Homo sapiens: one gene and its partner. The protein of the gene in region 1 purifies or fractionates together with the protein of each later gene. This does not show direct contact. Each region holds a gene or a part of one and is shown on either strand. Other genes may lie near its edges.

Region 1 (7,022 bases):
TTGCCAGGCAAACGCCCTAATTTACCTGTTAATATGATGCCTATAAACATCCAGACACAGAGAAAAATGTTCCCTGCCTTAGGACCATAGTCTGATGTGAGCTTTCCTTGAGCCAATGTGAACAAAATTCCAAATATCTAAAATACAATAAGAAAAATCATTCGTTATTAAGTTAAATTATTTAAAGCAAGTATAAAGTTTTCACCAGAACTTTTCTTATTTTGGTTATATGATTTGGTTTCTAGAAACATTCATTGAAAAGTTGAATTGTTAAAACAAAAACCACGGTCAGGCTGGGTGCAGTGGCTCACACCCACTGTAATCCTAGCACTTTGGGAGTTGAGGTAGGCGAATTGCTTGAGCCCAGGAGTCCGAGACCAGCCTGGACAACATGGCAAAACACCATCTCTACAAAAAATAACAAAAAAAATTTAGCTGGGCATGCTGGTGTGCACCTGCAGTCCCAAAAACTCTGGAGGCAGAGGGGGGAGGATTGCTTGAGCCTAGGAGTTTGAGGCTATAGTTAGCCATGACTGCACTACTGCACTCCAGCTTGGATGGCTGAGCAAGACTCTGTCTCCAAAAAACAAAACAACAACAACAACAAATAAAACCATGGTCAAACTCATTACTCACTAGAATATCTGGTATAATAATCATCTCAGGTTTAGAGAAATCAGAGGTTTACCTGTGCAGAAGCATTAAGAAGACCAGATGAAGTACCTTCAGATTCAGGGTAAGTGATTTCAACAGCAAATTCAAAACCCAAAGGGAGGTAACCAGTCATGAAGAAGCTAGGAAAATAAATCCAGAATTACAGAAAGAACTACCAGAAAGTCACAATCACATACTGATGCAATCATTCTGCCTCTCGGGCTTATTCTAATGACCAAATAAGTGAATATTTTGAAGTTGCTATGTCAAAGTAAGGAACTATTATCATTGACCAATCAGCTCAAGGTTACAGAACTGGAAGCAACAAATACACATTTTTTTCTGAGAAAAATTTACTTCTAGTTTTATAAGTTGATTGTAACCAAATAAAGTTACACAGATTAAGTAAGGCTCATCCATTTTTTACCTATGGTATACCAAAAACCAATTTTAAATAATTTTTAATAGTTCTTAAGAATTACATGTTTATATGCATAGAATGAATCCTTTAAAGTTTAAAATATTGAAGAAACTTTGGATGAACTGAAAAAATTAAAGACCAGAGTAATAATACTTCAGAATTATAACAGCATGCTATCATTCCTCCTAAACACATCTGATACTTACCCAAGCACCCCTCCAGTAACAAACACGATGATAATATATCTAAGGTCCAATGTGAAAGTAAAGATAACCATTCCAATAAAAGACAAAATATAAACTATCAGAGTAGTCTGTCTAAAACAAAAACAACAAAGCTGTTAGTATTTTGTCTGATTCTCCTAGGAATACAAAAATCATCACTCTTACCTGTTCAGTAATGAATCTTTGTTTTTCAAAGTTCACCCCTTCTTGTCCATGGAAATATGTATCCACCAAAGCACAAATTTTAAAGCATTTTTAATTTAAGATTCAGCAGCACCAGAAAACCACACCATATCGAATGCTCAGATAGGATCCTTTTATAGGAATAAAATCATTTTTATGCCACCAAATGGGATAGTTCCCTATTCACATTTCAAGATTCAGATCAAATTCTACCTCTTCCAAATGCCTTCTGTAACGACACCAGTTTATAAGAGTCTCTCTTTCTTCCAAATTCCCTTATCATACTGGCACTATAAAACTTATGACATCTATTTTAGTTTGTTATATTATTTAACTTTTCACATGTGAATGCCTTATTTGCTCCATTTAGACCACAAACATCTTAAGAACAGGGATCACATAATGCCAGCCATAATTTTCATCTAAGAAAGATGCACACAACAGGAGTTTGGTGAATGAATGGCAGTTACCCTGAGAAGGAAGCCACAGTGGCAAAGAACACACATCTATGCCTATCAAGTTTTCTAAATGTATAACGGATGAAAGACTTAAGAAATATAATCCTTTACATATGCTCCCTTCATCTATATATCAAGTAGGTTTCACTCTAAGCTATCATTTTAAAATAATGAAGCTAAGGCAAGTGCTGTCTTAAATTATGGAAGAATATGGAGAATTTCAAGATTAGAGATACTTTTGGTAGCGTTTAGACTAATAATATCAAATATATCTTGAGCCTTGAAAGGTACACGGGACACAGTTCCATATTTCATTCATTTATTCCTTAATAGTTTCATTCATTCATTTCCAAGTACAGGGGTAAGTTTTGGCATGTTACAAAATGTGGTGATTCTTTTCACTCCCAGAGCAAAATATGCTGCCTCTGAAACCCCTTTCTTAGTCTCCCAGTTGGTATCATTCATTTTCTTTGGTATTAGCCTTTTGGTGGTTCCATATAATGTACAATTAACAGAGTATATTCTTTTTTTTTTATTTTTTTAGACAGCGTCTTGCTCTGTCACCCAGGCTGGAGACCAGTGGCACGCTATCTCAGCTCGCTGCAACCTCTGCCTCCTGGGTTCAAGCAATTCTCCTTCCTTAGCCTCCTGAGTAGCTGGGATTACAGGTGCCCACCACCACACTTGACTATTTTTTGTATTTTCAGTAGAGATGGCGTTTCACCATGTTGCCCAAGCTGGTCTCGAACTCCTGGCCTCAAGCAATCTACCCGCCTTGGCCTCCCAAAATGCTGGGATTACAGGCATAAGACATTGTGTCAAACCAGCATTTTCACATTATGCATTATATTACAGTTAAGTGGTACTGTAGTCTGGGCGTACTTTAGCCAAAAAGTTCTTACCAAAATAAAGCCTTATGCTCAACAATAATTTTTTGATTGGAAAGAACTACTTTTTTGTTTTTGTATTTAAGCCCACAACATAAAAAAAGAACAACATAGGCCAGGTGCAGTGGCTCATGCCTGTAATCCCAGCACTTTGGGAGGCTGAGGTGGGCAGATTGCCTGACCTCAGGAGTTCAAAATCAGCCTGGGCAACATGGTGAAACACTGTCTCTATCAAAAAGTCAAAAAATTAGCCGGGTGTGGTGGCGCACACCTGTGGTCACAGCTACTCAGGAGGCTGAGGTGGGAGAATCACTTGAGCCTGGAAAGCAGAAGTTGCAGTGAGCCAAGATGGTGCCACTGCACTCCAGCCTGGGTGACAGAGTGAGACCCCACCTAAAAAAAAAAAAAAAAAAGAACAAGATAAAGTCTATCAAAAGTCAAATATTTCTCAGAAATGGCTCTTTTTAGAATAGAAATAATTCCTTCGGAAGTGGTAGGTATGAGTACTGTTAGAAAGAAGGGGCTCATAAGGTATCCAAGTTCTCAGAATTGAAATAAATGTGACCAATAAAATAATACAATACATAGAGTATTGAAACACTTGTTGCTGGGCGCGGTGGCTCACGCCTGTAATCCCAGCACTTTGGGAGGTCGAGGCGGGTGGATCACAAGGTCAGGAGATCGAGACCATCCTGGCTAACAAGGTGAAACCCCGTCTCTACTAAAAATATAAAAAAATTAGCCGGACATGGTGGCGGGTGCCTGTAGTCCCAGCTACTCGGGAGGCTGAGGCAGGAAAATGGCGTGAAGCCGGGAGACAGAGGTTGCAGTGAGCCGAGATTGCGCCACTGCACTCTAGCCTGGGCGACAGAACGAGACTCCGTCTCAAAAAAAAAAAAAAAAAAGAAACACTTGTTAAGTGAAGAGAACCTACTAGTGTTTAGAATCCGTATCTTTAAGTAATAACATGTTTTAAATTTCTTGAAATAAAAAGCAAATTGTCCTTTAAAATCAAAATACCTTTGGTTATACACCATACATGTATTTACTTTCACTTACTTGTATGTTTTAGTATAATCCAGCCATAAGCCACAAAGAATAGAGCCCACCATTCCAGCTACTACTAGCGTTAGCCCAATCCTTCCAGCATTGACTTCTTCTCCCTGAAAAAAATTTGCGTAAGAAGTTGATCAAATAAATGGATTAACTAATTCAGACTCTTCACATTCCCACACCTTTTCATAGTCAATGAAAATAATTAGATAAAACTAAGCACACAGTAGGAAGATTTAGTACATGTGTCAGTGTGGGAGGGGAGGGCAGGTAAAGAATATATAAAAGCATTATATTTTAAAACCAGAAAAAAAGCCTAAAATAATAGAAGAAATAAAAAAGGTAAATTTTCCTTAATCCTCTATGGTTAGAAGTACAATGATTTTTGTTAGGATTCTTAAGTATAGATAGTCATGTGCTCCATAATTACATTTAGGTCAACTCTGAATCATATATACAGTATGATCCTGTAAGATTATAATACTGTATTTTTATTCTACCTTCTCTGTTTAGATATATTTAGATACACAATACTTACCATTGTATTACAACTGCCTACAACATTCAGTAGCATAACATGTTATACAGGTTTGTAGCCTAGGAGCAATAGGCTATACCACGTAGCCTAGGTATGTAGCAGGCTCTACCATCAGGTTTGCGTAAGTACACTCTATGATATTCACACAACAATGAAATTGCCTAGCGAATTTCTCAGAAGGTATTCCTGTCACTAAGCAAGGTATGACACTGTATAGATATCTGAAAAGGAGGTTAATCGATAGCTTTTACATAGTACAACTGCTTTATCCTTTCAAAAGCAGATACGTCAATCAAAACTTGATATTTATTTATCTATATTTATGCTGAGTTCCCTTAAAATGTTTTGTCTTTTTCCATATAACCAATCATATTATTTCCTAAAAATAAACTTAGGTATTGTCACAGGGATAGTAACTTCTGCTTTCCATATTGTGTGTGTGTGTATTTTGTTTTGTTTCGTTTTTTTGAGATGGAGTCTCACTCTGTCACTAGGCTGGAGTACAGTGGCGCTATCTTGGCTGGGATTACAGGTGTGAGCCACGGCGCCCAGCCTGTTTTTTTTTTAAATGGGGATTCACTCTTATTGCCCAGGATGGAATACAATGGCACGATCTCGGCTCACCGCCACCTCCACCTCCCAGGCTCAAGTGTTTCTCCTGCCTCAGCCTCCCGAATAGCTGGAATTACAGGCATGCGCCACCATGCCCAGCTAATTTTGTATTTTTGGTAGAGACAGGGTTTCTCCATGTCGGTCAGGCTGGTCTCGACCTCAGGTGATCCACCCGCCTCGGCCTTCCAAAGTGCTGGGATTACAGGCGTGAGCCACTATGCCTGGCCATACTATGTGCTTTATAAACTGGATTAAATATGTTAAATTAAAATGATGGGAGGCCATTGTTTTGGAGTGAGCTCCCACAGTAGGCCCAACAGACCAGACCACATAGAATGGTGTCACTAGTGCTAGGTGTCACATAATCAAACTGAACTTTAAAATGGGCCACTTTTCCAAAAAAAAAAAAAAAAGGAGATTCATAGCAACCTATCAGATGGGGCCCAGTCCCCTTTGTTTTACTCCTATAAGGAAAGTAACTTTGTAGCAACCAATCTGCTCTTTGTTCCTTGTTTCTGCTTTCTTCAGCCTTTTTCTGCCTATAAAGCCCATCTCCTCTGCTCAGCTCATCAGTACCTTTCTAAATCTTTAGATGGGATGCTGTCCAATAAACGAATTGATAATAAAAGCCAATTAGATATATAAAGTTGTGGAAATTTCATTTTTTAACAAATATATTCTCAATTAAAACAAATGTAAATATTTGATAGCAACAATGTCATAACCCTTAATCTCATGACCCTGCTAACGACAATTATATTGCTAAAGAAAAATTTTTGGCCAGGCATGCAATCTGATATAAGCAGAAGCTTACCTCATAATATGTCAATATCATTTGATTTAATAACGTTGAGACTGAATAAAAGGCACCAGTCATGATACCTACAATAATAAATAAAGATGATATTAAGTCATGATACCTACAATAATAAAGAGAATACTAAAAGTGTGTCATTTACCAGTTCATGAAGTGACATGGAATATTATGTGACAATTGTGGAAATACATTTCTTAACACAGTTGATAAAGGAAATTAAAAACCATTGTCATTCCCTTTCAGAACCTGGACTAATGAATTTAACACCTAACTGTACTAAAGATGTAATAGCAGAACTCTGTCCTAATACTATTATTATTTAGATTGAGATATACTGACCATAAATCATACCCCCACATGCAACACATATATGGCAACCAGTCAAGCAATGGATTGTTTACTGAATTCCTACAATGTACTACTACAGCCAACAAATGTGCAAAGCCTAACAGAAACTGTGCTTCAGAGATCTTACCTTTTTGTATCAAAGACTTACTGAAAATTCATAAGACAAAATCAGTTAATACTTTTTTTTTTGAGATGGAGCCTTGCTCTGTTGCCCAGGCTGGAGAGTAGTGGTGCAATCTCAGCTCACTACAACCTCCGTCTCCTGGGTTCAAGCAATTCTACTGCCTCGCCTCCCAAAGGATACTTTAGAAGTGAACAATAAAAACAACTGGCTATGAGAAGCACAGGATAGGTTTGAATCCTGATGTCTCCTAGCATGTATTGTATGAATTTAGGTAAGACTCTTAACCTAAATTAAGCTAAAACTTAAGTTTATTATTTATCTATTATTAAATATTTTAAGAATATAAAATAGCATAGAGAATACAACAAATATCCTCATATATCACCCGGATTTGGCAAACATTAACATTTTTCCATCTTTGCTTCAGATTCATTTTTCAGACTTTTCCCAATCCTATTCTTTACCAAAGTCAAGCCCTAGCTTGAGCTTGGTGCTTATCATTTTATATATTACCATATATGCATATTCATAAACAATTAGAAGTATTCTGTAAGTATATAAATATTATTTGTATCCATCTGCAACTTGCTCTTGTTACACTATATTGAGATGGTTTTGAGATGTATCCATGTTGATATTTTTTGTTGTAGTTCATTAGTTTTCTGTTGTACAGTATTCTATTATGTTAATATACTTCAATTTA
Region 2 (7,109 bases), on another chromosome or scaffold:
CTTCATGGCACACGTAGAAAAAGCTATTTGTCAGGTCTGCTGGGATAAGCAGAGAAGGCTGCTGGTGGCTAGTCAGTCAGGATCCCCCAGTCATCACAGGCCTGCCTGACTGCCCAAGGACTGAACAGGTCAATATCTTGGCACAACTGTAACTTCTTCATTTACACCAAATGGGAAACTCTGACTACATAGCTCATTTCCACTTCTTCTTGAGCCTTCTGACACTTTTAAACATAGCTTCCCATACTTGGCAATACATCATCAAAACCTACAAGTTGTAAAAATTATAACCCAGACAAACGAGGCTTGCTAACCTTCCACTGAAAAGCAAGAGGGAGAAAGGTCCCTCACCAAAACTTGAGGGAGTACAGCAAGATAGCTATGGGTAGTTTAGGTGCCACAAACCCAGTCATATGCTCCCATGAAACTCTGCCTACATGGGTCTTAGTGTTTTGGCTGTATACCTTTAGGCCTGCAGGCATCATGCACGTAGGGCCTCACTCTCACTTTTTCAAATGGAAGTAGAATTTCACATTTTTGCTTCAAATGAAATACTTAAAAAGAAAACTATGCATTTGATGAACATTCTGGGATAACACTGACAACCACAGAAACAAATGTGACAGGTAATTCAGTAATCCAGATACTTACCAATCTTTCTGAGATATGTTCTTATTATAAATATGCCCAGAATTTTCTTTATAGGGAGGGCAGATACATTTACATCTGACATCCTCGAAATTCTGTAACCAAAATGGAAACAGTATAGTGCGTTGACAGTTTATCATCAATATTTTTAAAAACTGTACCATATACATTTTGCCAAGCATCCTCTTTAGAATACCAAGTATTCTAAAATCATTCATTTAAAACTTTAACAGACACAGTTTTTAAAAGCCACAGTCCTTTATGGTAATGCCAATGAATCATTATATATTACATGTAGTTATTTTGAAATAATACCTAATACATGATCTAAGACTTATTAACCATATTTATGGGTCACATGACAATCAAATTATGTTAATGTTATTACCATCTATCTGCCACTAGAAAGACACATGGTAAGCAGATAGTTGTGCCTGTAAATAAGAATATTCATTACTAAAGGATGGGAAAGAAACTAAAAATTATTCACAAAAAAGGTCACAATTCTACCTATCATCCTTTCACCCTCTGGTAGAAGGCACTGACATTGATAAAACGGGTTGGGCCAGAGTCCCGTAGAAGGGATGAAATGTTAGAGGCACCCACCTACAACTAGAAAGGAAGTACACACAGGAAGTAGCCTGACTCTGAGATCAGTTTAGTATACTCTTCCCAGGAAACTTTGCTTCTAATTCCTGGTTGACAGACAGAACAACTACCAACAAAACAAGTTTCAAGAGGTGGAGGAACAGGTGACTAAGTATCTGGATAGAGAAAAGAAGAGATGCTTCCTCAGCAAAGGGGAATCTGTTTGAGAAGGAAGTGGCTTATCATTCCCCAGAGGACCTTGCCCACTCCTCCTATATACAGTGATATGTCTGGCAGAGCTATTGACAATTCACAAACGTATTCAGCAACCACTTAGTGAGCATTTGCTCTGTGTTAGATCTTGTGCTCAATAAGGTGGATTCAGATAAGCATAAGACATGGTTTCTGCCCATAACCAGGACACACCCTAGTAAAGGAGACTGAAAAATAAATACATGATCACAATACATAAAGTTATGAGGCAAGATATGCAGAGGGTGCCAGCAATGTTTTCAAAGTCAGGAGACGTGCTGCTGTCCCTGTTTCTGGTAGGAGGTAGAGATGGTTTCAAAAAGAATCTCTGAATCAAAAACATTTGCCTGCCTGTAACCTTTCCCCACTCCTACATTTAAAGATATTATAAATTAAAGCTCTTATTTTTAAAAACGCAATGTCATTCTGTTTTCCCATCATACTAATGTGAATCCCTTCTGTTCTCCCCCAATGATGAGCTAGCTCATCAAAGAGGAAGCACAGGTATGCATGGAGCTAGGGCAGGTCTGGAGAGCTGGGGCACCAGAGAACAGTATGAGGGAACTAGAAGGTCAAGAAATCGAACCAGGGAGGCCACAACCTCACCTCTCTTGCAGTTTGGTTCTTCCCTTACCCACTAAATTATCAGGAAGAGAGAAAGCAAGAAAGGCACCAAGGGACTCGTGGAGGGAGTTAGGTGAGAATATGAAGCAGGTGAGAGATGCTCCGTAGGCCCTATTGGGAGGGAAGTAGGCCAGGAGGGGCAAGTTCCCACCACAGGAAGGGAAGTGTTCAGGGGTGAGCTGAGCTGAGTCGGCCCTTGACAGGGAAGGCTCTGTCAGATGGGGGCTTCCTATCATTCTGGCTTGGGGCATGCGGGGCCTGTGAGGCTGGCGGAGGGCGCAGGTGGGCTGTCAAGAGCTTAGGGTGGAAAGTTAAAGGCTCTCGGAGGTGAAAAGGTTGTCAAGTGTAAGATGCGTGCAGCCGGGGCTGGGAAGGGAAATGTTAAGGCGGTGGGGGGCTGCTGTCCGGACTGTGGGCACTGTCGGGGCTGGGGACGACCGTGGGGCGCTGCCTGCCAGGCTGTCGGGGCTGAGGGCGAGAGTGCCGCCGGGCAGTCGGGAGGGGCGGGGCTGGTGGCGGCGGGGGTCTGCCGGAGCTGTGAGGCCAGGCGTATGGCTGTCAGGAATGGGCCAAGGAGCAGGTTGGCAGACCCAGTTTCCGCAAGGCCGGTGGTAGGGGAGGAGCTTCCGTCAGGAGCGAGGCTGGGCGGGACTCACCTTGGCGGCGTCTGACAGCTGCGCCAGCAGCAGCACGGAAAGCGCCAGGCACGACAGGCTGAGCAAGGAGCCAAGCCGAAGAAGGCCTCCCCACAGGGTCGCCATCGCTGGGGGCCCAGCGGTCCCACAGCCCGGAGCCCCCGCGACCGGCTCCCGGCTCGGGCTCAGGCTCAGGCTCAGGCTCAGGCACAGGCTTGGGACCCGGCTGGGGATCCTCCGCCCGCACTTCCGTCTGGACGCGAAGGCGTCACCGGGCGCGCCGGGTCAGATGCAAAAAGCATCCGCCCCGGAACCGGTTACCAGTGCGAAGGGCCGGGAGGCTGGGCAGTCCTGGTGCCCGCCTTGGCCTAGCCCCGGCCCCGGGACGGAAGGGGGCCTCTGGGGTGGCAGCCTGGGCCCAGTAGAGCTTTGCATCTCTTGGATATCTTTCCCGGGCGCAGAAGCTGCGGGGCTTAGGGAGTCGCCATTGCGCTGGAAAGTCCTCCCGCCCACGGAGACCCCAGCAAACTCCGAGTGTCACACAGTCGCCTCTGGCGACCCGTGCGGGCCGGAGCCGTTCGCGCACAGGCAGGGCGGGTGCTGAGCGTGGAAACGGGGCTGGAATTGGCCGAGCCATGCCTTTCCGGGATGCCCACCGCCAGTCAAAGGGTTGGGGGTGGTCTCTGCACCTTAAGTACTAACCTGCCGCCCACGCGCCTCCTGACCACAGCACCCCGTCGGCTTTCTAATTCTGTGAGCTGCCCTCGTGGGCGTGGCCTCCCTGTGGAGCTCCCCATGTGCCTCCCCTTGGTCCAGCCTGCAGCTAGGAAGTGGGTCACAGCGACGGGGCTGGGCTGGGCCAGGCCAGGCTCCGGGAGATGTGGAATTGGCGAAACAACTGCCCCAGTAGTATCCTCCGCCTAGGACTCCAAGAGGTGGCGAATTGGGGCACTACGCCCGGGTAAGGCAGTGCCTGTTCAGGGCTGCCGACCTGTCTCCCCAGGGCTGTCATTCTCAGCAAGTACTTTAGGAGTGCCTTAGATCGGCACATTCTCCCATTGAAATATTTTTGTTAGTGGAGACAAGGGAGGTAATGGCAAGGACACGGATCATCACAGCCCCTAGGGATTTGTTGAATGACCTTTGGCAAATCACTTCCCTTCTCTGGGCCTGTAGTTCTTGGCTGAATATGAGGGAATGGATTTCAAATTATGCTCCATGTAATACCCGTGTTTTTACCTCTGTAAACAGATTTTTTTGTTTTTTTTGAGACGGAGTCTCGTTCTGTCCCCCGGGCTGGAGTGCAGTGGCGCGATCTCGGCTCACTGCAACCTCCGCCTCCCGGGTTGACGCCATTCTCCTGCCTCAGCCTCCCTAGTAGGTGGGACTACAGGCGCCCGCCACCACGCCGCCCGGCTAATTTTTTTTTTCTTTTTCTTTTTCTTTTTTTTTTTTTGTATTTTTAGTACAGACAGGGTCTCACTGTGTTAGCCAGGATGGTCTCGATCTCCTGACCTTGTGATCCGCCCGCCTCGGCCTCCCAAATTGCTGGGATTATAGGCGTGAGCCACCGCGCCCGGCCCCAACAGATTTTTAAAGATGGTCTTTTCCCAATTTGTGGAAATGTTTTAACAGAATGCTCTCAATATTTTTCGCCCATGTGATTCTTAGATTCATGTGAATCTAACACAACGTATCTGATACTGTTCCCAACAGGAACCAGGGTGGCAGGGCTAGATGTCCTCTCACCAGACTGCCCAGTGAAGGTGCTGTCACTTTGATGAATTATCAAGGCTTTGTAGTGGGTCTTCTACTGGACAAAGGACAAACTGGAGACTCCCTGGATCAAATGTGTTGGTGAGGCACTGAATCTGATTGCTGAAAGGTGATTCAGCTGCAAGTTAGGCATCAGTTTAGGGTTTTCTAGGCTTGGCATCTAAAGGGAGTGCCTGCTGTAGCTGAAACCTCATAGGCCTTCTCTTCCTTCCGAATTGTTTTCAAGGCCTTGGGGGTACAGAGACTTAGAGAAAATACATAGTTGTGCCTCAGACTGATGGGCCTCATCTGTTTAATGGAGAAACACCAAGCACACTCAGTCTGGGCGGAATTTTAGAGCTCCATAGTATAACCACTATCTAGCTACATGTGGCAATTGAGCATTTGAAATGTGGCTAGACTGAATTGAAATGTGCTGTATAAAATATACACTTAATTTCAAAGACAATATTTTTAAAATGTAAAATATTTCAGTAATTTAAAAATATGGTTTAAATATTTTAGATATGTTGGGTTAAATAAAATATATTAGTAAAATATTTCACTTGTTTTTTGACCTCTTAAATGTGGCTGCTAGAAAATGTTATAGTGCTGTCAGGAAGTGCTGTTCTGGAATACAGAATGTGGCTGCCGTGAGTGGAGTGTGACTATGAGATAGTCGCCTGACTGGAGACAATGAAGCCTCAGGCCAAGGTAAGAGGGCTGACAAGGAAGAACTGGCACAACTAGAGCCGAATGTTTGGGGGAGGTATATGTCTGCCAAAAAATGAATATAATTTCAGGTGACTCAATAGAAGTGGAGGGATCAGTTTCTCTTGTTCTGCCCTGCTCTTATCTAGGTAACTCTTACTTTTCCTTTAGGTCAGGGTTCTTCTAAGCCAGAAAACCTTCACTGACTTAAGTGCACTCCTTTCTATGTTTGCATAGATCTCTTTCTTAACTTTACCCCATTATAGTAAAATTATGTTTTCACATTTGCCTTTATACCCAAACCTCCACCAAAATATTGTGAGCTCTCTGAGGGTAAGGACTTTGTCTTATTATTGTTATACCTGGAGACAGATTAAAACAATATGATGTTTGTGGGGACCAGGGAAAAGGGGAATGGGAGAGGCTCCTCTGGTTAGTCTAAAAGAAAAGTATCAGGCACCTACTTGAATCCTCATTTGATTTCTTTCTGACCATGAGAGGGGATGCTGAGATGCCCAAAGATGTGCAAATGGCGGGATCCGGCGCACCATAGTAGGCAGGGGAGTGAAGATTTCTCACCTCGGGTCTTCCTAGACCTTCAGGTCACACGGGAATTGTTCTGTTTATAGACGGCGCTGGCCTTAGTACTCACTCTCCCTCTATTTTCCTTGCTTCCTTATAACTAGGTTTCCCTACTCACTTCCTCAAAAAGAGTGATGTAGGTCCACGTGTACCCTCCCAACTGGCCTGGGTCCTCTCCCTTCTTTGTAAGGCCTGAAAAATTCCCTGGTGGGGGATGGTTAGAAAAGGAAGAGGAACCTTCTTTGTAAGTGTGCAAGTCAGAAGGGGAGGGAGAAAAGTGACAATTTATATATCTGGGACAAATATATCTTGGACCCAGGTTTTGCCACCTGTCTGCATCCCCCCATGCCCTTTCCCCTCCAGTGATCAAATAGCTCTCTGGATGCCCCTTAATTCTTCCACCCCATCCATTCTGATCTACCCAGCACTTGCCTAGGCAACACCAGTCCAGGAGAACAAATGGAGTTATGCACAACATTGGTGATTTCCTTGTATTGTGGCTCCAGTGGTTATGGCTGGGGACACACACATCCTTCCAGTTATTTCTGAGCATACTCTGGAAACGTCTTATGAGCCCTCTTCTTTATTGTGTGCACCCACTAGGATGCTCCCTCCTACTCAGCCCTGTTTAGTGGGATTTTTCAGCCCACTGTAAAGCCTACTGCTGCCTGTAAAGCCACCTAAGTGCATCACTTGCTGGTGTTCACCATGATAACAACAATTTATGGGGACAGAATATGTTTCTAGAGCTGCTGGTGCCACTGCTGATGTTACTGGGTTCCCTGAAATAAAACACCACAGTGCAGGTGAGTACCAAAGTGGGGAGAATTTTTAGTTCCTTTTAGAGGTGCTAAATCAATATTGTTGATTTCCCAGTACCTTAGAATATTTAATGAAAACAGGTCAGGTGCAGTGGCTCACGCCTGTAATCCCAGCACTTTGGGAGGCCAAGGCAGGTAGATCACTTGAGGTCAGGAGTTCAAGAACAGCCTGGCCAACATGGTGAAACCCCATCTCTACTAAAAATACAAAAATTAGCAGGGCGTGGTGGCAGGCACCTGTAATCCCAGCTACTCCGGAAGCTGAGGCACCAGAATCGCTTGAACTCAGGAGGCGGAGGTTGTAGTGAGTCGAGATCATGCCACTGCACTCCAGCCTGGGCGCATGGTGGCTCATGCCTATAATCCCAGCACTTTGGGAGGCTGAGGCAGTCAGATCACTTGAGGTCAGGAGTTCAAGAACAGCCTGACCAACATGGTGAAACCCCATCTCTACTAAAAATAGAAAAAGTTAGCCAGGCGTGGTGGCAGGCGC

Evidence for each region. Proteins that work in one complex are often made in the same cells at the same time.
Region 2: the proteins of FLVCR1 (region 1) and TMEM9B purify together in Homo sapiens (co-immunoprecipitation; 4 studies listed by BioGRID and IntAct, with this or other methods). This does not show direct contact.

What each region holds. Positions count from the first base shown.
Region 1 is NC_000001.11:212,882,261-212,889,282, reverse strand, and holds part of FLVCR1 (choline/ethanolamine transporter FLVCR1), read right to left. Parts: intron 5,913-7,022; coding exon 5,845-5,912; intron 3,991-5,844; coding exon 3,887-3,990; intron 1,393-3,886; coding exon 1,282-1,392; intron 795-1,281; coding exon 689-794; intron 138-688; coding exon 26-137; intron 1-25.
Region 2 is NC_000011.10:8,961,441-8,968,549, forward strand, and holds the start of TMEM9B (transmembrane protein 9B isoform a precursor), read right to left. Parts: upstream 3,003-7,109; 5' UTR 2,874-3,002; coding exon 2,769-2,873; intron 744-2,768; coding exon 652-743; intron 1-651. UniProt on the Homo sapiens protein: Enhances production of pro-inflammatory cytokines induced by TNF, IL1B, and TLR ligands. Has a role in TNF activation of both the NF-kappaB and MAPK pathways.